Homo sapiens: one gene and its partners. The protein of the gene in region 5 purifies or fractionates together with the protein of the main gene of each other region. This does not show direct contact. Each region holds a gene or a part of one and is shown on either strand. Other genes may lie near its edges.

What was found.
Region 1: the proteins of LCN9 (region 5) and BPNT2 purify together in Homo sapiens (affinity purification with mass spectrometry; one large-scale study listed by BioGRID and IntAct). This does not show direct contact.
Region 2: the proteins of LCN9 (region 5) and ZNG1C purify together in Homo sapiens (affinity purification with mass spectrometry; one large-scale study listed by BioGRID and IntAct). This does not show direct contact.
Region 3: the proteins of LCN9 (region 5) and NUDT9 purify together in Homo sapiens (affinity purification with mass spectrometry; one large-scale study listed by BioGRID and IntAct). This does not show direct contact.
Region 4: the proteins of LCN9 (region 5) and PDIA5 purify together in Homo sapiens (affinity purification with mass spectrometry; one large-scale study listed by BioGRID and IntAct). This does not show direct contact.
Region 6: the proteins of LCN9 (region 5) and NKIRAS1 purify together in Homo sapiens (affinity purification with mass spectrometry; one large-scale study listed by BioGRID and IntAct). This does not show direct contact.
Region 7: the proteins of LCN9 (region 5) and SIL1 purify together in Homo sapiens (affinity purification with mass spectrometry; one large-scale study listed by BioGRID and IntAct). This does not show direct contact.

What each region holds. Positions count from the first base shown.
Region 1 is NC_000008.11:56,962,868-56,966,367, reverse strand, and holds part of BPNT2 (Golgi-resident adenosine 3',5'-bisphosphate 3'-phosphatase), read left to right. Parts: intron 1-15; coding exon 16-177; intron 178-2,303; coding exon 2,304-2,575; 3' UTR 2,576-3,500. UniProt on the Homo sapiens protein: Exhibits 3'-nucleotidase activity toward adenosine 3',5'-bisphosphate (PAP), namely hydrolyzes adenosine 3',5'-bisphosphate into adenosine 5'-monophosphate (AMP) and a phosphate.
Region 2 is NC_000009.12:68,251,983-68,255,482, reverse strand, and holds part of ZNG1C (zinc-regulated GTPase metalloprotein activator 1C), read right to left. Parts: intron 1-3,500.
Region 3 is NC_000004.12:87,425,573-87,429,072, forward strand, and holds part of NUDT9 (ADP-ribose pyrophosphatase, mitochondrial isoform a precursor), read left to right. Parts: intron 1-3,500.
Region 4 is NC_000003.12:123,143,525-123,147,024, forward strand, and holds part of PDIA5 (protein disulfide-isomerase A5 precursor), read left to right. Parts: intron 1-1,997; coding exon 1,998-2,068; intron 2,069-2,574; coding exon 2,575-2,735; intron 2,736-3,500.
Region 5 is NC_000009.12:135,662,113-135,666,108, reverse strand, and holds the start of LCN9 (epididymal-specific lipocalin-9 precursor), read right to left. Parts: upstream 2,801-3,996; 5' UTR 2,788-2,800; coding exon 2,692-2,787; intron 1,948-2,691; coding exon 1,811-1,947; intron 1,388-1,810; coding exon 1,314-1,387; intron 865-1,313; coding exon 754-864; intron 459-753; exon of another isoform or gene 422-458; coding exon 366-421; 3' UTR 357-365; intron 249-356; 3' UTR 1-248.
Region 6 is NC_000003.12:23,896,491-23,899,990, reverse strand, and holds part of NKIRAS1 (NF-kappa-B inhibitor-interacting Ras-like protein 1), read left to right. Parts: intron 1-3,500. UniProt on the Homo sapiens protein: Atypical Ras-like protein that acts as a potent regulator of NF-kappa-B activity by preventing the degradation of NF-kappa-B inhibitor beta (NFKBIB) by most signals, explaining why NFKBIB is more resistant to degradation.
Region 7 is NC_000005.10:139,191,869-139,195,368, reverse strand, and holds part of SIL1 (nucleotide exchange factor SIL1 precursor), read left to right. Parts: intron 1-3,500.

The DNA of each region.
Region 1 (3,500 bases), on a different chromosome or scaffold from region 5:
ATATTTGCTTTTCAGCTTGGGCAATGGTAGATGGTGGTTCAAATGTGAAAGCCCGCTCTTCCTACAATGAGAAGACCCCAAGGATCGTTGTGTCTCGTTCCCATTCAGGGATGGTCAAACAGGTCGCTCTTCAGACTTTTGGAAACCAGACTACAATTATCCCAGCTGGTGGTGCTGGTATGTTCCTCTTCCTGTGTGGTCCCTGGAGAATGTTCCTGGCATGGTCAAGGCTATGTTAGGAGACTAATTTGCTTGTCCATGCTTGGGAGGAAAGTGAGGAGGAGTGGTGTACTTTCAAGACAGGCTTGGTCTCCTGTTTGGTAACCTCGAGGGTGGGATTTTAGTCACTCTGCCCTTCTTATTAGAAAGAAGCAGTCTCACAACAGTGGTTTCTCTTTCTTGAATACACAAAAGCATATTCCCATTAGATCTACCACTAATTGCTTTTTATGCAGTCTGATTTCAAAATAATTGTCTTACTTAACTGTGGGAATATCAAGGAGAGGAAGAAAGATCAAGCACTTAAGATGCTTCATATGGCAGAAAGACGCCAGGAGTCATCATAAGTATTATTAGAAAGGCTAATCCCTGAGTCACTTTTAACACCCCTGAACTCTTTAACCTGCATACCTGGGATGAGCAAGAGAGGCTAGTGCGCACCCACCTTATCGTATATTCTCTACTATTGTATTATAGTCAACCTAGTTTTTTGGAAAAGAAACCGATAATAAAATTTGAAGCCTCATGAGCCATATATATACAGTCTCTGTTGCATACTATTATTTGATTTTCTTTAATGAACTTTTGAACATATTTTTTAAAGATTCTCATCTTAACCCTGTAAGAACAGGCCATGACCCGGATTTAGCTTGAGGGGCTGTTTGTCAACTCCTGTTATGAGTACTGTCTAACATGTCAGAAATGTTTTAATTCAGGTTAATAGCAAATTATGGTCAGAAAACAAATGTGTTGGAAAACCTTCTCAGCACACATAAAGGGAGAAGTAATACTTCTTTTTTGTTTTGTTTTGTTTTGTTTTTTCTTTTTTTGAGATAGGGTCTCATTCTGTCTCCCAGGCTGGAGTGCAGTGGTGTGATCTAGGCTCATCGCAACCTCCGCCTCCTGGGCTCAGGTGATTTTCGTGCCTCAGCCTCCCGAGTAGCTGGGACTACAGGCATGCACCACCATGCCTGGCTAATTTTTTATTTTTAGTAGAGACGGGGTTTTGCCACGTTGCCCAGGCTGGTCTTGAGCTCCTGAGCTCAGGCAGTCTGCTTGCTGTGGCCTCCCAAAGTGCTAGGATTACAGGCGTGAGCCACCACACCTGGTCAATACTTTTTAACTTTTATGCCTAATAATTTTAATTTTCTGTTCTATATATCTGCCTTCTTTCATATGGCTTCATTATTTTCTTAGAGGCTCTCTGTTAGGTTGGTTAGGAAAAGTAATGTCCAGAATACCCAGCAGGGATGAGATGACTAGGTTCTAGACCCAGTTTCTTCTGCATTTGTTTTATTACTTTAGTTTTTAAATTCTGCCTCATTACAAAAAGGCTTTAGAGTGGTAGTGTTACTGTTAGTTCTCTTTCACATCGGGCCTACTTAGATGTTTAGGTAAAACTTGTGTGTATAATATGTCATTCCATAGAAAATGGCACGTAATGAATGTGTCATTCCATAGAAAATAACCACAATGTAGATTTAAAATTTTTAAATTGTAGGTATATATTTGGTTACATTTGAGACTAGCTTAATAAGTTACTTTGCAGGCCGGGTGCAGTGGCTCACGCCTGTAATCCCAGCACTTTGGGAGGCCAAGGCAGGCAGATCACGAGGCCAGGAGTTCAAGACCAGCATGACCAACACGGAGAAACCCTGTCTCTACTAAAAAATACAAAAAAATTTAGCAGGGCATGGTGGCACGCACCTGTAATCCCAGCTACTCAGGAGGCTGGGGCAGGAGAATCGCTTGAACCCGAGAGGTGGAGGTTGCAGTGAGCCAAGATCGCGCTGTTGCACTCCAGCCTGAGTGACAGAGCGAGACTCTGTCTCAAAAAATAAATAAATAAATAAAAATAAACAATAAGTTACTTTGCAATGTATTTTTGTTCTGAGTTTAATGTTTATACAGTTACTTTAAAATTTTTTTAATTTGAAATAATTTTAAACTTAAGCAGTTGCAGAGACTGCAGCAAGCTCCTGCACACTCCATCCTGCTATTTTAACAGGATACTTAATCAAAAAAGTATGCTACTTTCTTAAAATTTTTTGAATAATAACCTAAATTCTTTGTTTATCTTTTAGGTTATAAAGTTTTAGCACTTTTGGATGTGCCTGATAAGAGTCAAGAAAAAGCTGATTTATACATCCATGTGACATACATCAAAAAGTGGGATATATGTGCTGGTAATGCCATCTTAAAAGCCCTAGGGGGGCATATGACTACCCTGAGTGGTGAAGAAATCAGTTACACTGGTTCAGACGGCATTGAAGGGGGACTCCTTGCTAGCATCAGAATGAACCACCAGGCCCTGGTCAGAAAACTCCCAGATCTAGAAAAGACAGGACATAAATGAGCATAACTGATTACAGGGTACAGTTCTTCACAGCTGAAATGGTTAGCCTGAGATGCTGGAAGCTTCAAAGGATTGGTGGAGACTATGCATGGTTAAGGCCATCCCGAACTTTTTAAAGTATTTATGAAGCATCAGAGACTTATTTTCCCTGTAATAGAATGCAAAATCAGGGAAAATGGGTTGCTTTGTGTCTCAAGTATTGTCTTTATTTTTGAGACTATTTTCATACAGTTGTCATACACAAGGCGCATATATATATTTGTGAATTAAAATCTGTAGCTGAGTCTACATTGTTATGAGTCACCATTTTCACACAACATCATGAATCTTCACTGTTAGTACTTTCATATAGAATTCGGTTGAAGGAAAGATTGATTTTTGTGTAGATGTTTAATATAACTTTACAACTATATCTCATTGAAAATAAAGTCATTGGGGATTTTTACCTCTAATTTGGATGGAAAGCACAAGAAGCCACACATTCATTAATATGCAACAAATGTTGTATTTATGTTACTGAATATTTCTATGGATTAAAATAGAAAAAGTTTAATTGATTTTTTCTTTTAAATTTTAATAACAGGTTCACCAGCTGGTAGAAAATAGAGACACATGATGATTTGCATTGTAATAATTTCTGTGTGTATGTGTGTGTGTTGTTTTGTTTTTATAAAGAAAAGTGTGTTTGTACCCATGAGTTCAGCATTTCTGCCATCTTGCTATTTTCATTTTCCCTGTGGAAGATGCATGGTTGCATCCTTTTCCTTCTGACCAACACTTAGTCTTTAACTTTGTAAGGTTCGGTTTAAGGTTTCAGGGTTAGCACTATAGTTTTGGTTCATTTTCTCATTAACGATAAAATATGCTGTAAGGCACTATAAGAATATAAATGATTCTATTACAATTGAAAGTTACTTGACATTAC
Region 2 (3,500 bases), about 67 Mb from region 5:
TGGATGTAGGTATTTAGGAGGAGTAAAGATGAATGAACAAAATTGATTAGTGGCTCTCAAACCAGGGTGCTTTTCTCCCCAGGGAATATTTGGCAATGTCTGAAGATGTTTTTGGTTGTCTTAACTAGGGGAATGCTACTGGCATCTAGTGGGTAGAAGCCAGGGATGTTGTTAAATATCCTACTCTGCACAGGGCAACCCCCTCACAACAAATAATTATCCAACCCAAAATGTTATTTGTGCTGACACTGAGAAAACCTGAACTACATTTTAGAATCTCCCTTCTTCAAAATCTAATAAAACAAAAAATAAAAATAAAAAATAAAACAAAAAGGCCAACATTTTATTAGCAGCAACCAAATATAAAAGGGCCTGCCATAAATTTTGAAGACTGATAGTCAAAATAAGAAACAAAGTTATATGTGATTGATGGTCATTCCCAACTCTACCCCTACCTCCAATAAGAGGTTGTAGGGAAATAGTTTACAAAATCCTAAACACTTACCAGAAATACACTCCAAAATGGCAAAAAGTAGAGCCGAGGAATGAATAAGCAACAGAGGGAAAAGTCAACAAAAAAATTTCAAGAGTGAGTTTTAACCATCTCCATGCTTTGGGAAGGAGAAGGTCAGGTCACATTCTAGGGCTCAGAACAAAGAGAAATGAGAGGTCTGAGGTCGAATGATGTCCCCATACAAGGCAAAGGAATTTTATTCATAAGCAGTTGGGCAGACCCAAGAGTGAAATACTTGGTACTTCAAGAGAGCAGAGCCTAAAAGCCACATTGCCCCATTTGGCTCTCTGAATCACCACTTTTCCCTTCTCTTTCCCTCCACTCCAACAATATACAGCTTTCAAACTAGGGCTCAGGAGAAAAACAAACTTGGGTAAGGAGAGTGGAGTATTAAAAATATTTCCCATCAGCACCACATAGAAGTTCTCCCATATCAAGAAGAAACTTGTATGCATATGTATTACAGCCTGACAAAAAGAAATACACACATACAGGGAATAAAAAGCAAGAAAGAACACAAAATGAAGAAATGAATAGGGCATACAAGTGGCAAAGAACCCATTCTGGAAGGATACATAACCCAATAAAAACTAAAGAAAATTCTCAACAACTTCATCATAATGAAGAACTTGAAAACAATACAACCTTATAATAAACAAGCTCAAAAGCAAGAAGCAGAATAAGATGAAAATGCAGTTTGTAGTGCTAAAGAAACTTAGAGCCTATATAACACAATGACTTAACCAATTAATTCATTTAAAATATCAAAAACAGGACAGATACTGGAGAAAACAGAATTATTGACAAAAAGAAAGGCTTCAGATGATCACAGTAAATGCAAAGGTAAAAGACAAATCAAAGCAATTAGAATACATACGAAGAACAAAAGAAAATTCAGTATTAAAAAAACTGGTGTCATGAAGTAGAGGATCTAATAATTTGACCAAAAAAAAGTATTCATGGTAACAAACAAGGAAAATGTTCTTAGAAGAACTAAGGGCATATTATAATTTAGGGAAAAATGATTATAAGTGACACTTAGATATACCTTGTTTATATTACTGAATTTCAAAAATAAAGAAGAAAACTCTCAGGCATTTTAGATTAAAAAAAAAAAAGTGCCTTCAAGGAGGGAGGGAGAAAAATCAGACTTTTCTACAGTAACACTAGATGTCCCAAAATAATAAAACAGTGACCACAAAGTTCTAATGAAAGTGTTCCCAAACAAGTTATTTTTCAGGAACGAAAGCAATAGACAGACATTCTCAAGCATTAAAGAAAACAGCAAGCATTGAAACTCAGAGACTATAATACTCACAAATTCTTCCTAATAAAAGGAGAAAACATTGGACAAAGAAATCCAGCCAATCAAACACTAGGAGATTATGGAACAACATTTACAAAGTTGAGGGGGAAAAAAGTGTGACTGATAAATTTTATACCGAGCCAAGTAATCCTTCAAGTAATATAAAAACAAAAGACAAATATTTTGAATCAATGAAGTGTATAAGAACCCAAAGAATGCATGCAGTACCTGTAACTTGAAAAGACTGCCTGACAATGAAATTCAATCAGGAGATGGACTAACTCGGGAATGGAGAAGCAACAGTACTGGTAATGAGCACCAAAACTATTAAAACATAGAACTAAAAGAATTATGACAGAACCATGACAACATAAAGAATATGATCAACATGAAACTAGGCCAATTAATATCCTACAATGGCCTCTAAGTGTTCAAGTGAAAGGAACAGTCACCTGTTTCTCACTTTAAATCAAGAGCTAGAAATGATTATGCTTAGTGAGAAAGTTATGTTGAAAGCCAAGATACGCCAAAAGCTAGGTCTCTTGAGCCAGTTAGCTAAGTTGTGAATGCAAAGGAAAAGTTCTTGAAGGAAATTAAAAGTGCTACTCCAGTAAACACACAAATGATAATAAAACAGCCTTATTGCTGATATGAAGTGGTCTGGATAGATGATCAAACAAGCCACAATGTTCCCTTAAGCCAAAGCCTAATTCAGAGCAACCCTAACTCTCTTCAGTTCTATGAAGGCTGAGAGAGGTGAGGAAGCTAGAGAAGAAAAGTTGGAAGGTAGCAGAGGTTGGTTCACAAGATTTAAAGAAAGAAGCCATCTCCATAACATAAAAGTGCAAGGGAAAGCAGCAAATGCTGATATAGAAGCTGTAGTAAACTACCTAGAAGATGTAGCTAACATCATTCATGAAAGTAGCTACACTAAGCAACAGACTTATTTTTTATTTATTTATTTATTTATTTTGAGATGGAGTCTCGCTCTGTCACCCAGGCTGGAGTGCAATGTGCAATCTCAGCTCACTGCCACCTCCGCCTCCCGGGTTCAAGCCATTCTCCTGCCTCAGCCTCCCAAGTAACTGGGATTACAGGCTCCCACCACCAAGCCAGGCTAATTTTTGGTATTTTTAGTCGAGATGGGGTTTCACTATGTTGGCCAGGCTGGTCTTAAACTCCTGAACTCGTGATCTGCCCATCTCGGCCTCCCAAAGTGCTGAGATTACAGGCATGAGCCACCGAGCCCGGCCAGCAACAGATTTTTAATGGAGATGAAATGGCCTCCTTTTGGAAGAAGATGCCATTTAGGACTTTCATAGCTATAGAGAAGTCAATGCCTGGCTTCAAAGATTCAAAGGACAGGCTGACTCTCTTGTTAGAGGCTAAAGCAGCTGGTGACTTCAAGTTGAAGCCAATAATCATTTACCATCCTGAAAATTCTAGGGCCATTAAGAATTATGCTAAATCTCCTCTGCCTGTTTTCTATAAATAATAAAGCCTAGATGACAGCACATCTGTTTACAGCATGGTTTATTTTAAGCCCACCATTGAGATCTACTGCTTAGAAAAAAAAAGATTCCTTCAAAATATTATTGCTCATTGACAACACACCTGATCACCCAAGAGCTGTGATGGAGATGTACAAGGAGATTAATGTTGTTTTCATGCCTGCTAACA
Region 3 (3,500 bases), on a different chromosome or scaffold from region 5:
TTAGTAGAGATGGGGTTTTACCATTTTGGCCAGGCTGGTTTCGAACTCCTGACCTCAGGCAATCTGTCTGCCTTGGCCTCTCAAAGTGCTGGTGAATACAGGTGTGAGCCCCCACGCCTGGCCAAGACCCTGTCTCTTTGAAAAAAAAAAAAAAAAAAAGAATTTTACCAGTCTTTGATAATTTGGAAAAACCCAGAAAGTGACAGTTTTGCACTTAGTTTTTGTGATTACTAGAAGGTTTCCAATGTTCATTTTCTTTTTTAATTGCTCTGTCACCTAGGCTGGAGTGCAGTGGTGTGATCATGACTCACTGCAGTCTCAACCTCCTGGGCTCAGTGATTGTCCCAGCTCAGCATCCTGAGTATCTGGTACTACCGGTGCGCACTACCAGGCCTGGCTAATTAAAAATTTATTTATTGTTTGTAGAGATGGGTCTCCCTATGTTGCCCAGGCTGGTCTCAAACTATTGGGCTCAAGTGATCCTCCTGCCTTGGCCTCCTAAAGTTCTGGGATTGTAGGTGTGAGACACTGCTCCCAGTCATCAAATGTACATTTTCTAGAAAAAAGGTAGTATATTACAAAGATGTAGTGAATGCTTTTACATACCACAACATACAAATCTTCCAGAAGGATCTACTGGTGATGTGTGTAGAATATTGTTTTATTCCTGTGAATGCATAAAACATATGAATGAACCAAAAATGAAATAGAGATAGTAAAACATAGTGTTAAGAGCCTGGAATTCTAAGACAGCTTGCCTAGGTTTGGATCCTGATTTCTACTCTCAATTGTGTGACCTTGGTAAACTTATTTACCTCTCTGGGTCTTAATGTTCTTATTTCCTTTTTTTTTTTTGAGACAGAGTCTCGCACTGTCGCCCCAGCTGGTGTGCAGTGGTGTAATCTTGGCTCTCTGCAACTTGTGCCTCCAGGGTTCAAGCGATTCTCCTGCCTCAGCCTAGTGAGTAGCTAGGATTACAGGCGTCTGCCACCATGCCTAGCTAATTTTTTTGTATTTTTAGTAGAGACGGGGTTTCACTGTGTTGGCCAGGCTGTTCTTGAACTCCTGACCTTGCGATCGCCTGCCTCGGCCTCCCAAAGTGCTGGGATTACAGGCGTGAGCCACTGCGCCTGGCCTTAATGTTCTTATTTATAAAAAAAAAAATTGAAAAAGGATAATATGGCCTGGTGTGGAGGCTCACACCTGTAATCTCAGCACTTTGGAAGTCCGAGGCAGGAAGATTGCTTGAGCCTAGGAGTTCAGGACCAGCCTGGGCAACATAGAGTGAGACCCCATCTTGACAAAAAATAAACAAAATTGGGAGTCGCTCAGCCTACCTGATTTACCAAACCACTCCCTTGCCAAAAAAAAAAACAAAAAACTAAACCAAAAAAAAAAAAAGCCAGGTGTGGTAGCATATGCCTATAGTCCCACCTACTCAGGAGGCTGAGGTAGGAGGATTGCTTGAGCCTGGGAGGTCGAGATTGCAGTGAGCCATGATTGTACCAATGCATGCCAGCCTGGGTAACAGAGTGAGGCCTTGTCTCAAAAAAAAAAAAAAAAGTTAAAAAAAAAAAAAGTACCTGAACTCAGTTGTGAGGATCAAGTGAGTTAATTTACAGTGCTTAGAACACTGTCTTGCACATAGCAATCACTATATACATTTAGGTGTGATTATGACAATGATTGTTGCAGATTTTATTTCAAAGCACCACGTCAGTATTGCATTTTTAAAAGTTTGCCAGTCTTAAGAATTGGTTTTTGCCATGTAAATGGACTTTATCAGCTACTTAGTTCCCATTTGCTAGGCCAAATATATTTCTTGCACTTGTTCAATAATACAATACAAAGGTCAAGGCTGTATATGTGTGTATTACAAGTATTCTTTTTTCTGGTACCTTACAGTGTATCACATTTAAATAGCATATATAGATAGCAGTGTTAGCACTTCTTGATGTGATAAGATGTATAGCCTGAATTTTTGCACAATTAAATTTGTTTTAGAAAAGTAAATAATCCAGTGTGTAAATCTGTCTTGTCAAGTAGGTAGATTTGTGGAATTCCATAAACATTTTATTGCTAAATCAGGGAACAAAGAGCCTTAAGTTATTTAAACATTTTTGGTACGTGGGTGGGATGGAGTGGAACAGCATTAGTGTTTCCTGTTTGGTATTTAATTAATGGCCTTAACTTTTTTCTTGCCCTACTCCCAAACCATGAAACATAACTCATTTTGTGATAGGGTTCAATTAGAGATTAGGGTTCCATATGTTAAAATTTTGCTTTTTAAAACACCTGAAGTCTGTTTGCTAATTTTGATAAATGTGTTTCATATATGTATTCATTTTTTATTGAGTATGGGTTTAAGGTGAGTGAGGGAGACTTTATTTTCAGAATATTCATTGTGTAGGTTTCCTAAACTGTGGCAGCTGAGGCAAGAAAGTTGTCATAATCATAATATGAAAGTGAATGAACCTACTGCTTTTAGTAAAGTTAGTCACAAATCAAATACTCGCTCACGTTACACTAGTTTTCAGCCCGTCTGGGGATATTAACTTCTTTATTAGTTAGGTTTTCCCTCATTTTTGGGTGTTTTACCACACTTTGCAGATGTAAAGTGAGTGTAAAATGAAATAGTAATTGTTTCAGAGTCTTTAAATGTGATGAAAGAGAACAGCTTGAACAGTATATAAAACTGTAGACACACAAGAATAGGAAAGAATGAAACCAGTTAAAAATCCAACTGACAGTTTGTCAGTTTCTTACAGAACTCAACACTTATAATTCAGCAATCACACTCTTTGGTATTTACCCAAATGAATTGAAAATTTATGTCCACACAAAAACCTGCACACAGATGTTTATAGCAGTTTTATTCATAACTGCCAAAACTTGGAAGCAACCAAGATGTTCTTCAGTAGGTAAATGGATAAATAAACTGCGGTACATCCAGACAATGGGATATTATATTATTTAGTGCTAAGAAGAAATGAGCTATCAAGCCATGAAAAGACATGGAGGAATCTTAAATGCATATTATTAACTGAAGGAAAGGCTGTATGATTCCAACTATATGGCATTCTTGAAGGCACAACTATGGAGACAGTAAAAAGATCAGGAGTTGGATGAATTGGGGTAGCACAGAGGACTTTAAAAAATAGTCATTTTTTTAGAGCAGTTTTTAGGTTCACACCAAAATTGAGCTAAAGATAAGAGATATCCTGTATACCTCCTACCTCCACCCATGCATAGCCTCCCGCATTGTCAACATCCCCACAGAGCCACGGAGCCATACGTTTGTTAAAATTGAACCTACATTGACGCTTCATCACCCAAAGTCCTGTAGTTTATATCAGGGTTTACTCTTGGTCTTGTACTTTATGGTTTGGACAAATGTATAATGACACGCATCAACTCTTATGGAATTGTACACGTAAAATTCACTGCCTTTAGGGCAGTGAAACTTGCGTATGATACCTAATGGTAGGTACATGTTTACA
Region 4 (3,500 bases), on a different chromosome or scaffold from region 5:
TTCCTCTGGTTCATCCCTTGAAGGCATCATGTGTGCCACTCTATTCCCCTCTGGACCAAAGACCATGGTCCTCTCTGTCATTATGCTGGAAGATTCTAAGGGCTGATGCCTTTTCTACCCTTTCTTCTGCATCATAGCCCAACAGGAGTAGGCAGCTCCCTAGATAATGGCAGCAGAGGTGCCTGTATACCCAGCAGTTCCTCCTCTTCTTGTTGTGGAGCCTCCCACTTGAGGGTTAGCAGTGTCTCTCTTCCTTGGATCCACCTGGGAAGAGCTGACATGTTGATGTGGCTAAGCACTGTAGCCACTCCCTGGGCTGCATTCCATGAGGGTCAGTGCCCTTGACCGAGTCATGTCTCCAGTGCTCTGTCCAGAGGAGGAGCTTCACAACACTGCCTGGGAGCTCAAGGATCAGTTTGGTTTTCTGTTATCAGTTAAGTGGGGAGTAGCCACTCCGGGGTCCCTTGTCCCTGGGAGGGACAGGGTGAGGATGAGCTGAGGAAGCCAGGTACAGGCAGGAGTGAAATGGAGAGATTAAGAACGAGACAGGTTCATGTCTCACCTGGAGCTGAGTTCTGCAGAAATGGCCTTGGAGGAGGAGACAGGAGCTTTCACCCCTGCCGGGTGCTCAGCTGGAGGCAGGAAAGCCGATTCCGTAGCTCAGTGGGAGGTCTCCTCTGATTACACTGTTTGACTTTCTGTCTTGCTTTCTTCTTGTCTTTCTTTTTCCTAACAATCAGTAGTAGAATTATAGCGTTCTCAGCTCCCACACAGTGGCACACCCCTGAGAAGGTTGAGTCACGACCTGTCATCCGCTGATCCTAGTTAATGCATGGTCCCCGCACAGCCAGGCTTACCTTCTGAGCAGCCTCCATCCTGAGCCAGTCTGCAGACCCCTCACCTCCCAGTCCCTCCAGCATCAGAGGCCAGAAAGTACTCTTTCTATTAAAATGAAAACAATGTACAAATGTCAAGGTCTGTCATTTACACAAAGTGCTTAATTTCTTTTTAATGCATCAAATTTTATTATTTCTGACATCTTACTGTGTTCATGCAGCTGTAAGAAAAGCACAGAGCAGGCTGGGCGCGGTGGCTCACGCCTGTAATCCCAGCACTTTGGGAGGCCGAGGTGGGTGGATCACGAGGTCAGGAGATCGAGACCATCCTGGCTAACACAGTGAAACCCCATCTCTATTGAAAAAGTACAAAAAAAATTAGCCGGGCGTGGTGGCGGGTGCCTGTAGTCCCAGCTACGTGGGAGGCTGAAGCAGGAGAATGGCATGAACCCAGGAGGCGGAGCTTGCGGTAAGCAGAGATGGCGCCACTGCACTCCAGCCTGGGAGACAGAGCAAGACTCTATCTCAAAACAAAAAAAAAAGAAAGAAAAGGACAGAGCAGTTTCTATCCCAAAAAATTCCCATCATGTCATATGGGGACAATTAGAATGTAATTATGTCCCATACTTATGCTTCTGTGAATTTTTGTGCCCAGCTCAAGGCCTCAGACTGCCTTCTGTCCAGAGAAGATGATGATGGTGATCACAGCATGGTGCCACAACCTACACGCTGCCTGCAGCTAGGGCCTCTCACCAGATGGTTGGGTTTTCAACCCAGCTCTGTGACCATGGCTGTGTATATGGCCTTGGGCAGTCACCTGCCCTCTTGGTGCCTCAATTGTCTAATCCATAGAATGGAGATAATGTCAGTTCCTACTTTGTGGGGTAGTTATGAGGCTGTAAGGCACTGGTCAGTACCTGGCACACCAGTTGCCCGTATTATTTATGCAGTTGTTTTATTTTTGTGTCTGGGGTACCTTCCCACTACCCCAACCCACTTCTGGTGGATTATGCAAAATATTTCTTTTCTTTGAGCTGGTGCTGCTGCTGCTTTTCTCAGGTGTCTGGGAATGGGACTGAGCTGCCTTACAGAGGCGGCGCAGGGGAGCATCCCGAGGGCCTCTGTGCCATAAGAATGGTTTCTCTTGATCTCTCCCCACAGGGTGTGGCCACTGTAAGAAAATGAAGCCGGAGTTTGAGAAGGCAGCAGAAGCCCTCCATGGAGAAGCGGATGTAAGCTTCCTTTCCTTCCCCCTCACCGTTCTCTTTGAAAGAATCACTGACAGGTGGAATCATTATGACTTTCCCCTGCAAGCCCTGCTGCAGCTCCCGTGGTCCGTGGAGGCCAGCAGTACCTCTGTGTGCCCAAGTAGAACATCTTAGACAGATGGGATCCTAGAGGGGGCAGAAAGACTACTGGCCCATGTTCCCGTGCCCATCCAGGTGACCTCTGCCTGCTCCCTCTTTTCTCTGGGACCCTGGCTAACAGGAACAGGTGCCAATCTACTCAACGTGGCTGGTGGGGCAGATTCAAAAGCCTCATCTCAGCTCATAAATGAGAAATGATGGCCGTGCCAATGTTCAGTTGTTCCCTGGGATATGGGAGCCCACTGGGCTAGCCACCCCAGTTAAATTCCAGCAGGTCCAGGATGGGTTGTGGGGGCAGCGTCTGGGCTCCTGTGTTCCACCAGCACCGCATCTGAGGCTGTAATGCATGGTTGGCCTTTCCCCCATCCCAGAGCTCTGGTGTCCTTGCAGCTGTCGATGCCACTGTCAACAAGGCCCTGGCAGAAAGATTCCACATCTCAGAGTTTCCTACGTTGAAGTATTTTAAGAATGGAGAGAAATACGCAGTGCCTGTGCTCAGGACAAAGAAGAAGTTTCTCGAGTGGATGCAAAAGTAAGTGTTACGATCTCAGTAGCACATCCTAACTGCCAGCTGGCGGCCCCTGGAGACCACCTTGAGGAGGTGAAGTAAACTTTATGGTCAATGTCCTGGGCTCATGCCCGTAGGAGTCAAGACGGATCTGACTTCCTCAACCCTAAAACCACCGTTCATATGCTGATCACGTGTCTTGATCAGGTCACTGCTGGCAGTCCTTCTGGACGCAGCTTCATCGACGCACTAAACCGTGTGTTGCTTTTTCTCTGTCTCAGCCTCCTTAGGCCCAGATCTTATTGTCTGCATTTTATTCCACTCCCTTTGAATAAATGAAGGAGACACAGCTCTTCATAGCCAGAGCTAGACTCATTTCGTCCAGGTTTGCTAGTGGTTGGCTGGGCCTCCAGTAATGTCCACAGGGCAGGCTATGGTGGTTTGCAACTGAGGATAAAGATTTTGAAGAGCCCCCTCAGCCTATGTATTAGTTTGCTAGTGTTGCCATAACCAAGTAACAGACCAGGTGGCTCAACAATATAATATAACAATATAACAGAAGTTTATTTTCTTACAATTTTGTTTTGTTTTGTTTTGTTTTGAGACAGTCTCACTTAGTCACCCAGGCTGGAGGCATGATCTCGGCTCACTGCAACCTCCACCTCCCAGGTTCAAGCGATTCTCCTGCCTCAGCCTCCCAGGTAGCTGGGATTACAGGCACATGCCACCATGCCTGGCTAATTTTTTGTATTTTTAGTAGAGACGGGGTTTCACCATGTTGCCCAGGCT
Region 5 (3,996 bases):
AGACCTTACCACCCTGGAAGGCCCCATCACTGCCCCGACTCCAGGATGCTTTTCACAGCATCTTTCACCAAAGCACCTTGTGTTCGGTTCCCAGACCAGGGGGAGGGATGGGCACCTCCTGGGGTGGGACCCCGCAGCCTCTGACGTTGGCCCCAAGCTCTCCCCATCCAGCCCCCTGCCCGTCCCGAGTCGCAGCTCACGCATGGGAGGCCTGGGCGGGCTCCTGTAATGCTTGGAGTAGCAGGGATCTGGAAGGACAGAGGGGGCTCTCAGCGCAGGGACAGGGACCCCGCAGGCACACCTCCCATCCCCACCCTGTCCCGGCTCCCGCTTGGTCCGGGAGCAGTGGGGCTGACCTTTGTTGGTCAAGTCGATGATATTTTGTGAGCCAAGTCCGTACTTTTCGCAGGTTTCTTCAAATCTGCTCAGGAAGGAGGGTTCCAGCTATGGGACCCGTGCTGGGAACAGAGTTGGTTCTGTGTGAAGCTGGGCCTTGCTGGGGGTGCTCAGGAAGTGCTGAGGCTGGGCAGGGGGTCACGCCCTGACCAGAGAGGGGCTTTGTGCCAAGTGAGATGGGAGGTGACAGATTGAAGCACCCAGCACCCTAACGGTGTGTCTGTGGGAAGGAATAGCCAACGGGAACCACCTCTCCAAACCCCAGGGCCACTGCGAGACCCTCCTCCGCCCAGGGTTGGGCCGGACTTCAGAGGAGGTGGGGTCCCCGAGGGGGTCAGAGGGGGACAGCGGAGGTACCATAGAGCGCCAGCGTGTGGGTCTCGGTCCCGTTCCTGAAGTTCTGGAGGTGGAAGGTGATGAACAGCCTGTAGTCAGTCTCCGAGACGGCCACTGTGTTCTGGCCCTCATCTGCGTGGAGACATGGCTCAGCGTGGCCTGGCCCCGCCACCCTCAGGGTCCTGTGACACGTGCTGTGTGGCCGCAAGTGAGGATGGGGGGTCAAGTGGCCTTTTGAGGCGGGAGGGGAGGAGCCCACGGTGCTCACCCAGCGGAGACCCCTGCACAGGGGGCGGGCAGCAGCGGCACAGCCCCCTCCCTCCTTGTCATTGGCTTGCAGACCCTGGTGGCCCCTCAGTGGGCTCACCCCCCAGAGCTCAGCATGACACACCTGCCTCCCTGCTTCCCCTGGGCCAGGAGCCCCCCTGGGTAGGTGCCAGGATGGGTCCCTCCAGTTCAGGGTCAAGCTGTCAGGGGCTTAACTAAAATCCCCAGAGTCAGTGCTCACCAGAATATGGCCCAGGCCCTGGAGAAAGGAGACCCCCGACTGTGAGACCAGGAGGAGCCTGGCTTCCACTTACAGTTGATGGAGTATTCCCCATTCTTCTCTGTCTTCTCGCAGACCACGACCACAGCCACACACTCCCCCTGCACCCTGGAAGCCAGCCAGGAAGATGCCGGGAGTGGAGCTCCAGCCCCCTGGACGTGCGATGGCAGAGAGCACCCCTCCTCCAGGGCACAGGCTCACCCTCCCAATGCCCAGGCCTCATTCCACAGCCCCAAGTTCTTGGGCTGGGCCCTGCTGCAGCCCACCGGACACCCTCATCTCCTCGAACCTCACCCCAGCCTTGGAAGGGGGCGATTTCATCTCTATGTTTCAGGGAAGAGCACAGTGCCAGGCAGACCAAGTCCCTGCTCCCACCTCACCCTGCCCCCAAGGGTCACACGCACAGGCTCAGGCTCTCACCAGAGTGCAAGTCAGTGAGTGTGCGAGCGTGTGTGTGCAAGAGTGAGAGTATGCGTTGGGGTGGCAGGGGCATGGGTCTTCCTGATGCCAGCTGAGATGGGCAACACGCACATGTATTCGAAATCAAATATTAGGCTGCCGTTCTTCAAGTGTTCAATATTCCGGACGAAGACCCTCAGGTCTCCATTTTCTTTAATCCGATTCAGGTCATCTGAGGCCATGAAAATAGAATACCAGACCCCTGAAACCTGAAGACAAAGAGCTCCAGTGGGTGGGGGGCCGCGGGACAGCCCTGGGGATGCTTAGCGCCCACAGTCTTCCCTCCCAGGGCCCGGCCCCTTAGCATCTGGCTCCCAACCAGAACCCCTCCGCCCTTCCAGTGCCCCCAGGTCTCCCCTCGTCACCAGATCCCCCCTTTACCCCCAAGGTCGCCCCTCTGCTCACAGAATGCCCTCCGCCCTTCCAGGGCCCCCGCTGCCCCCCAGGTCTCCCCTATGTCCCCAGATCCCCCCTTTGATCCCAAGGTCCCCCCTCTGCTCACAGAATGCCCTCTGCCCTTCCAGGGCCCCCTCTGCCCCACAGGTCTCTCCTCTGCCCCTCCAGGTCCCCCTCTGTCCTCTCAAGGTCCCCCGCTCCACCCTTTCCCACTGAGTCCCCCTCTTTTCCCTAGGTCTCCCCTATACTTCTAGGAACCCCTCTGTCCTCTTAGGGCCCCCATCTCCCTGCTGGCCGCCACTCCACTCTCCAGCTTTCCCCTCTGCCCTCCCAGGGCCCCCTCTAACCTCTCAGGGCCCCAGTCACTCTCCCAGGCCTCTCCCACCCGACCCTCCCGGAGTAACCCCTGCTCTCCCAGGCTGCTGTCACAGCTTGGGGAGGAGAGGTGGGCTCCCCTTGGACCAGTTGCCCTGGTCACAGGTCAGAGACCCCAGGCTGGGGGAAGACAGGTGCCTTGAAGCCTGGCCCCTTCCCCACAGACCCCAACGCAGACACACCCTGGCCACGTTGTAGTTCCTCTGCATAACGGTGTGGGGATCGAACTCCTGGGCTGCGATGAGGCTCAGCCCCAGGCTCAGCAGAAGCAGAGCCATCTTTGCCGTGGACGCCTCAGCCCTCGGCCCACCCCCTTTATACCCTGCTGCCCTGCGGCTTCCAGCCCTGCAGGGCGGCCCACTCTGTGGCCCGTCCACACACATCCTGTGCCCACTGGGCATGCAGCCAAAGGCCCCGAGGCTGCTGCCCTCTCTACCTTGGGGAAGATCACCCCACTCCCTTGTGGGAGCTTCCTGGATCCATGGGCAAAGGAACCTGCTGTCCCCTCACTGGAGGCAGGCACCTTGTCCCAAATGCAGGGGACAGCCTCTCTCTCAGCCTGCAAGAGGACCCATGGTGGCTGTGTCTGTGGAGTACAGGGTGTCCCTGTTCCCCTCCCATCCCCTCCCGCTCCTTCCCCAGCACAGCGTCTGGGGCCGGAGCCAATGGTGAGTCACAGCGTCCCCAGACTCAACCGACGGCCGGGCGCTTATTCGCTCCTTATTCTCTCAGCCCAGTAACGAGATGCAGACGAGCTGGGAAATAAGAGAGTTTGCTTCTGTCACCGGGTACAGGCAGAAGCCCGGGAAAATAGCACTAGACCAGCTCAAAATTGCAGTTTTCCAGAGCTTATATATCTTCGAAGCTGTAGGTCTACGTGTAAGTGTGCATTCAGCTAAAGACACAGTGATGAACTTCTTCTAATCTATAATTAAGGCCTGAGTCCTGAAGAACTTCCTCTGGAGCCTCAGTAAATTTACTTAATCTGGAGGGGTCCAGGTGCTGGGGTGATTCCCCTTATCTTTTCTCCTGCTAAATCATGGAGGTTTGGGGCGTTCCTTTAGACCCCAGTAAAACTTGTTTAATCCTAAACGGGTCCTGTTAAGAATTCCTTTGTTATCTTGTCATGCTTCAAGGCCCAGGAGAGGCCTGGGCAAAACTCTTGGTGGGCTTTTGTTACATTCCAGCCTCTGTTGAAGGGCGCTGGCCCTCTCAGCTTTTAATATTTGACTTCACCACCCGGTCAGTGCTGAAACAGTTGTCGTGGAGGCCGGCCTATTCAGCCGTTAGTGAGACCTGGCCTGCCACAATCCCCACTGTCAAATTATGCATGATTGCTATCATGCTTGTATATTTATTTCTTATGAGAATCATGGGGGGATGGGGCATTATAATCTTTCTGGCTACTTCCTGCTGATAGGAGGTCATTGTTACGGGGCACCAAACGCAGTGTTGGAGTGAAAGATGTTGATTTGTTCCCAGTAGTA
Region 6 (3,500 bases), on a different chromosome or scaffold from region 5:
AGGGTTTCACCGTGTTAGCCAGGATGGTCTCGATCTCCTGACTTTGTGATCCGCCTGCTTCGGCCTCCCAAAGTGCTGAGATTACAGGCATGAGCCACCATGCCTGCCCTCCTTGGGCTTTTTATTATCTCCTTGGGTACATAGGATTCTTGTCTTCAGGCTTACCAAAAAAAGAAACCTAATAATTATTGGATTCTACCCATATACCACTTAAACATAAGATTCATATGCCTTACAGTGGTCTGTAAAGATTTAGATTACCTGGCCCATGCCTGTCCTTTTCATCTCATCTTTATTATCTGCCTGTCTCTCACTATACTCCAGTGACACCAGTCTACTTTCTGTTTTTTCAACATGATAGTTTTGTTTTCCTATTAAGCTTTCTCAATTGCTTGTTTCCCTGTCTGGAACTCTCTTATCTCAAATCTTTCTCCAGATCTTCACGTGGCGGACTCTTCATTGTCTAGGAAACCAGATAATATACTGATTAACAGTACTGGCTAGATGGTAGAAAAAAAACAAAAAACAAAACAAACAGCAACAACAAAAAGTACTGGCTAGATGTTCTTAACTTAGATTTTTGCATATTTTTTGTTAAGCTTTTTATTTTGAGACAATTATAGAGTCACATGCAGTTTTAAGAAGTAACAGAGAGAGATCCCTTACCCAGTTTGCCCCAGTGGTACCATCTTCAAAACTCTAGTACATCATAACCACCGTATTTGTGTTGATTCAGTCAAGACACAGAACGTTTCCATCACCACAAAGATCCTTCATGTTACTCTTTTATAGCTGCCCCACTTCCCTCCCATCTTCACCCCCACCTTAACCCTTGGTAACCACTCATCTGATCTCCATTTTTATAATTGTGTCATTTCAAGATTGTTATATAAATCAGTGGTCCCCAGTCTTTTTGGCACCAGGGACCGGTTTTGTGGATGACAATTTTTCCACAGATGGAGATGGGGTGGTTTGGGGATGAAGCTGTTCCACCTCAGATCATCAGGCATTAGATTCTCAAAAAGAGCATGCAACCTAGATCCCTCACATGTGCAGTTCACAATTTGATTCTCCAGCTCCTGTGAGAACCTCATGCCACTGATGTGACAGGAGGCGGAGCTCAGGTGGTAATGCTTGCTTGCTCCCTGCTCACCTCCTGTTGTGTGGCCCGGTTCCTAACAGGCCCTGGACTGGTACCAGCGCATGACCTAGGGGTTGGGGACCCCTGATATAAAAGAAATCATACAGGCCAGGTGCAGTGATTCACACCTGTAATCCCAGCATTTTGGGAGGCCGAGGTGGGCAGATCACGAGGTCAGGAGTTCGAGTCCAGCTTGACCAACATGGTGGAACCCCGTCTCTACTAAAAAAATACAAAAATTAGCCTGGCGTGGTAGCACACGCCTGTAATCCCAGCTACTCAGGAGGCCGAGGCAGGAGAATCGCTTGAAACCCGGGAGGCAGAGGTTGCAGTGAGCTGAGATCATGCCATTGCACTCCAGCCTGGGTGACAGAGCAAGACTCTGTCTCGGAAAAAAAAAAAAAAAATCATACAATATGTAATCTTTTGGGATTGGCTTTTTTTACTCACATATCCTCTGGAGATTCATCCAAGTCACTGCATGGATCAGTAGTTCATTTCTTTTTCTTGGTGAGTAGTATTCCATGGTACGTACCAAACTCTTTTTAACCATTTATCTGTTGTAGGACATCTGGGTTATTGATATTTTATTTAGAATACTAATTTACTTTATGAATAGATAACATATTCACAAGGTTTTGAAAAGATGTAAGAAGTCATGAAAGCTCCTCTCCCCCGTATTTCCCATCTTTCCCACCGAAACAGGCAAATGCTGTAATTATTTACTTGGGTATCCTCCAGAGACCCCTCTCTGCCCCACAAAAGTTGAAAGGTCAATGAACACTCACGTACTAGATACTTAAATCTTGGCTTTGCTTCTCAGCTTTTCTGCTTCAGTTTCCTTATCTGTAAAAGGAGAATAATAGTAACTTCCTCATATGCTTCTTCAATCCCCATAATCGTATTAATTCCGTGAATGCTTATTTAGCAACTACTATGTGCCAGGCATTGTTCTAGGTACAGGGAATGTGGTAGAGAACAAAACAGTCCATATCCCAATAAAGCTTCTATTTTGGGAGTGAGAGAGACAGTAAATAAATATATTTAATACATTACAATGAGTGATGCTATGTGGAAAAGCAGAATGGGGAATGAGGGTGCTATTTTCTGTAGGGTGACTTTAGCAGATATTTGAAGGAGGTAAGGAGGGAGGGAACAAAGCTGATGTCTGGAAGGAAGAGTGCTCCAGGTGGAGGGAATAGCTAGTACCGAGGATCTGAGGTCGGAATTTGCTTGCCATGTTCAGGAATCGGCAGTGAAGCCAGAGTGGGCTAGGAGGTGTGTTGTAGGTGATGGGGGCACTTTGCCTTTCACTTTTAGTGAGATCAGAAAGCACTGGTTTGGGGCAAAGGAATGACATGATATGGCTTAAGTTGCATTTATTTATTTTCATGTTTGGTTTTAAAAAATTGAATAAGTAATGTTTGCACATGGTTCAAAAATGACAATCATATGTAAAAAGGACTGTGTTCAGTCTGGTTCCCACAGCTGTCCTCAACCACCAAGATCCTGTACATTAAGCATGCTTTTTAAAATATTTTACCCCTTTATTAGTTTTGGGGCAGTCATCCAGAGTTTCTTTATATAAATGCAAGCAAATAGGAGTATACATTAAAAATATTTTTCCTCCTTTTTTTTTTTCCCTATTTCAGACAGGGTCTTGCTCTGTTGCCCAGACTTGAGAGCTATGGCATGATTGCAGCCTAAAACTCCCAGGCTCCAGTGACCTCCTGCCTCAGTCTCCTGAGTAGCTGGGACTACAGGAGTACATCACCATGCTTGCCTAATTTTTATTTTTATTTTTTTGCAAAGACAAGGTCTTGCTCTGTTGCCCAGGCTGGTCTCCCAACTCCTGGCTTCAAGTGATCCTCCTGCCTCGGCCTCCCAAAGTGCTGGGATTATGAGTGTGAGCCACCGTGTGCCTAGCCTTTTTTCCCTTTCTCACACCAGGTGGCATACTATCCTGTACCTTCTGTTTTTCATGTAACATATCTTGGAGTTGTTTCCATATCAGTACCCAGATTTTTTTTTTTTTTAATTGTAGAGACAGGTGTTGTTATGTTGTTCAGGCTAGTCTTGAACTCCTGGTCTCAAACAGTCCTCCTTCCTCAGCCTCCCACACTGTTGGGATTACAGGTGTGAGCCACCACACCCATCCACCCACCCCTGTTTTTTTTTCTTGGTAACTAATGTATAATATTCATCCTGTGGCTATAGATGTATCATCCTTGTTTTTTTTGAGATGGAGTCTTGCTATTGCCCACGCTAGAGTGCAGTGGCATGATCTCAGCCCACAGCAACCTCCGCCTCCCAGGTTCAAGCGATTTTCCTGCCTCAGCCTCCCGAGTAGCTGGGATTA
Region 7 (3,500 bases), on a different chromosome or scaffold from region 5:
TATTTACTTTGAAGGGTGGTTAAATGACGTATTACACATGAAAGCTCTTGGGACATAGGAATGCAATAAATGTTTTCACCCTCAAAGAATGAAGATTTGCCGTTAATGAGAATATTCAAAAGAACATGAGAGTCTCTGGCCGGGTGCGGTGGCTCACACCTGTAATCCCAGCACTTTGGGAGGCTGAGGTGGGTGGATCACCTGAGGTCGGGAGTTCAAGACCAGCCTGACCAACATGGAGAAACCCCGTCTCTACTAAAAATGCAAAATTAGCCGGGCGTGGTGGCGCATGCCTGTAATCCCAGCTACTCGGGAGGCTGAGGCAGGAGAATCACTTGAACTCGGGAGGCGGAGGTTGCAATGAGCCGAGATCATTGTGCCATTGCACTCCAGCCTGGGTGATAGAGCGAGAGATTCTGTCTCAAAAAAAAAAAAAAAGGCTCTGAAAGGAAGTTGTACCTTTTTCGAAATAGGTGGATTCTCTTTTTCACATACTTGTGGATTCATACTCTGACCTGCTCAGCCTCCCCCTGTCTTTCTTCATTCATTTTCTGTCCTTTCCTAAGTGAAGTTTTGCTGCAGAGGCTGTCTGCCAGTCTCTTGTAGTAAGCCTCTTTTCAGGAGAGCTAATCTGAACTCTCTTACAATGCTAGTCCCTTAGTCGCTATTCCTAGGGATTTTTTTCTGGGGGCTCCAGATGGTGCTTGGATCACGCTCTGTAGCACAGCCATCTCTAACTCCTGGATTTGGTGTCAATTTGGAGACCCATCCTGTGGAGCTAATCTTCTCTCTTTCTGAGCAAGGATGAATACTTTATCCTTTTCTGAGTCGGCCTTAAACTGCAAACCTTAGTCTTCTACAGCAGAGAGTCTTGTATTTTAATTATACGTAGACTAAAGACGGAATAGCATGCCCTTTTCTTTTCTTCCTTTACTTTCACCAAGGATTTCACTGCTGAGTAGGGGAGTAGGAGAATAGCCTGTTGCCATTCAGAGTGAGGCCTTGGGTAACCCCTGATTCCTAGCATAAGCAATAACTGAGTTCATCTTTGGGACAAAAACCTTGTAAAAGATTCGGGCTGCTCAGACACATGTGGAGAACCTCAAGCTAGGAATTTTCCTAGCTTGTGAGGAGTTTACACCTGGCATTCTTACTTTTGCAAATTTGTACCCAGAATCCAGTAGCAACAAAACTATATTCAGCCCAGACTTGTAGTTCCTTCAGGTTCCACCAGGCAGCTGTAAGACATGGCTGTGATTATGCTGGCTGGCCATGTTTGCCTTCATCCTCCTAATACTGCCCTTGGCTTTGGTATTGAGAAGGAAGTGGCATAATCAATTCATGAGTAACATTCTCTGCCAAAGTGGAAATCAGGGGCAGAGAGTTGTGAGCATAGGACTAGACAAATGGAAAGAGCCAGCCTTGCCTCAGGAATGCTGCTAAAGTGCTGTGAATCCGTGACAACCACTGTGTTTCTTGGTGTCACCTCATTTGTGAAATGGGAATGCCTTCATTGATCTCTCTCTTGAGAAGAGTGGACCACCATGCCAGTTTTCCCAGGACAGAGGGATATCCGTATGTGGGACTTTTAGTGCCAAAAGCAGGAAAGTCCGGGGCAAACCAGGACAAGTTAGTTACCCTACCCATGACCATTATACAAGTTAATGAACACTGTGCCCTTAGGGTTCATCTAAGACTCAACCCTTTGGGTTCATCTAATTATTTTTCAACCTTTTGTTCATTATCATATTTTGAGACTTTTTTTCCCTTAATTGTCTACTCCCCAGTGGAATGTTTTTTTGAGAGGGAGTCTCACTCTGTCGCCCAGGCTGGAGTGCAGTGGTGTGATCTCTGCTCACTGTGGCCTCTGCCTCCTGGGTTCAAGTGATTCTTGTGCTTCAGCCTCCTGAGTAACTGGGATTATAGGCGCCCACCACCATGCCCAACTAATTTTTGTGTTATTTAGTAGTAGTTTTTGTGTTTTGCCATGTTGGCCAGGCTGGTCTTGAACTCCTGGCCTTAAGTGATCTGCCCACCTCAGTCTCCCAAAGTGCTGGGATTACAGGCATGAGCCATCGTGCCCAGCTACCCCCAATGGAATTTTAATACCACAGATGTACTGTGTATCTGTTTTTGTATTGTGGCCCTTTGGATGGCCACAAACCATTGTAATATCTAACTTTTTTTCCCCCAAGAATCAATTTTCACCCCTTCTGGGCTGTTACTGCACTCACTGAGAATGCATGGTCTTATCTGATATTCTTTCTTTAATGTAGTCATCAAGGCCAGTTTTTTATCCAGAAGAAACAGCTAGTACCACAAGCTTTTTCGTTTCCTTTCCTGTTTTTTTTTTTTTTTTTTTTTTTTTTTTGAGACTGAGTTTCGCTCTTGTTGCCCAGGCTGGAGTGCAATGGCGTGATCTTGGCTCACTGCAACCTCTGCCTCCTGGGTTCAAGTGATTCTCCTGCCTCAGCCTCCTGAGTAGCTGGTACTACAGGCATGTGCCACCACATCTGGCTAATTTTTTTTTTTTTTGGTAGAGACAGTCTCACTGTGTTGCTCAGGCTGGTCTTGAACTTCTGGGCTCAAGCATTTCTCCTGCCTCGGTCTCCCAAAGTACTGGGATTATTAAGTGTGAACCACCACACCCAGCCAAGTTTATTCTTTATTGTTTTAATTTTCTTCCAGTCTTTGGATTTTGAGGTGGTCCATTTATCATCTGCTTCTCTGGTGCCTCTTGGACCTTCCATCTTCACAGCTGGGGCTGCTGTGTTGGCCCAGGTGTCCCCAGACTGGACATCGGAACCTTTGGGAAGAGTCTGATGTTTGGCCCTTGTCACATTTCACATTTCACATCTACAGAGAAATGGGGAAGGGTATGTTTCTGAGGTCTGCTCATAGGCTATGTTGTGACTGAGGAAGTTCTTGATCATCCCTTTTGGTTACCACTTATCATCACTGGCAGAAAAACATCAAAGTGGTCAGTGAACTCATCTCCACATCTGGCTACTTCCATCTCTGCAAGTAGTTTGCTTCTTCAGTCTTGTGATGGGAAAGAGATCTAGAAACTGGAAGAATAATCTGAGATACATCCTAAAGTTCTGGTGAGGAAAGCTAATGCCAATGGACTTTTTTTTTTTTTTTTGAGATGGGGTCTTGCTATGTTGCCCAGGCTAGTCTTGAACTCCTGGGATCAAGCAATCCTTCCACCTCAACCTCCTGAGTAGCTGGGATTACATGCATGTACCACCATGCCTCACTCGCCAGTGGATTTTTTTTTTTTTTTTTTTTTTTGAGACAGCATCTTGCTCTGTTGCCCAGGCTGGAGTGCAGTGGCACAATCTCGGCTCACTGCAACCTCTGCCTCCCAGGTTCAAGTGATTCTTCTGCCTCAGCCTTCCGAGTAGCTGGGACTACAGGCGCCTGCCACCACGCCTGGCTAATTTTTGTATTTTTAGTAGAGATGGGATTTCACCATATTGGCCAGGCTGGTCTCAAAC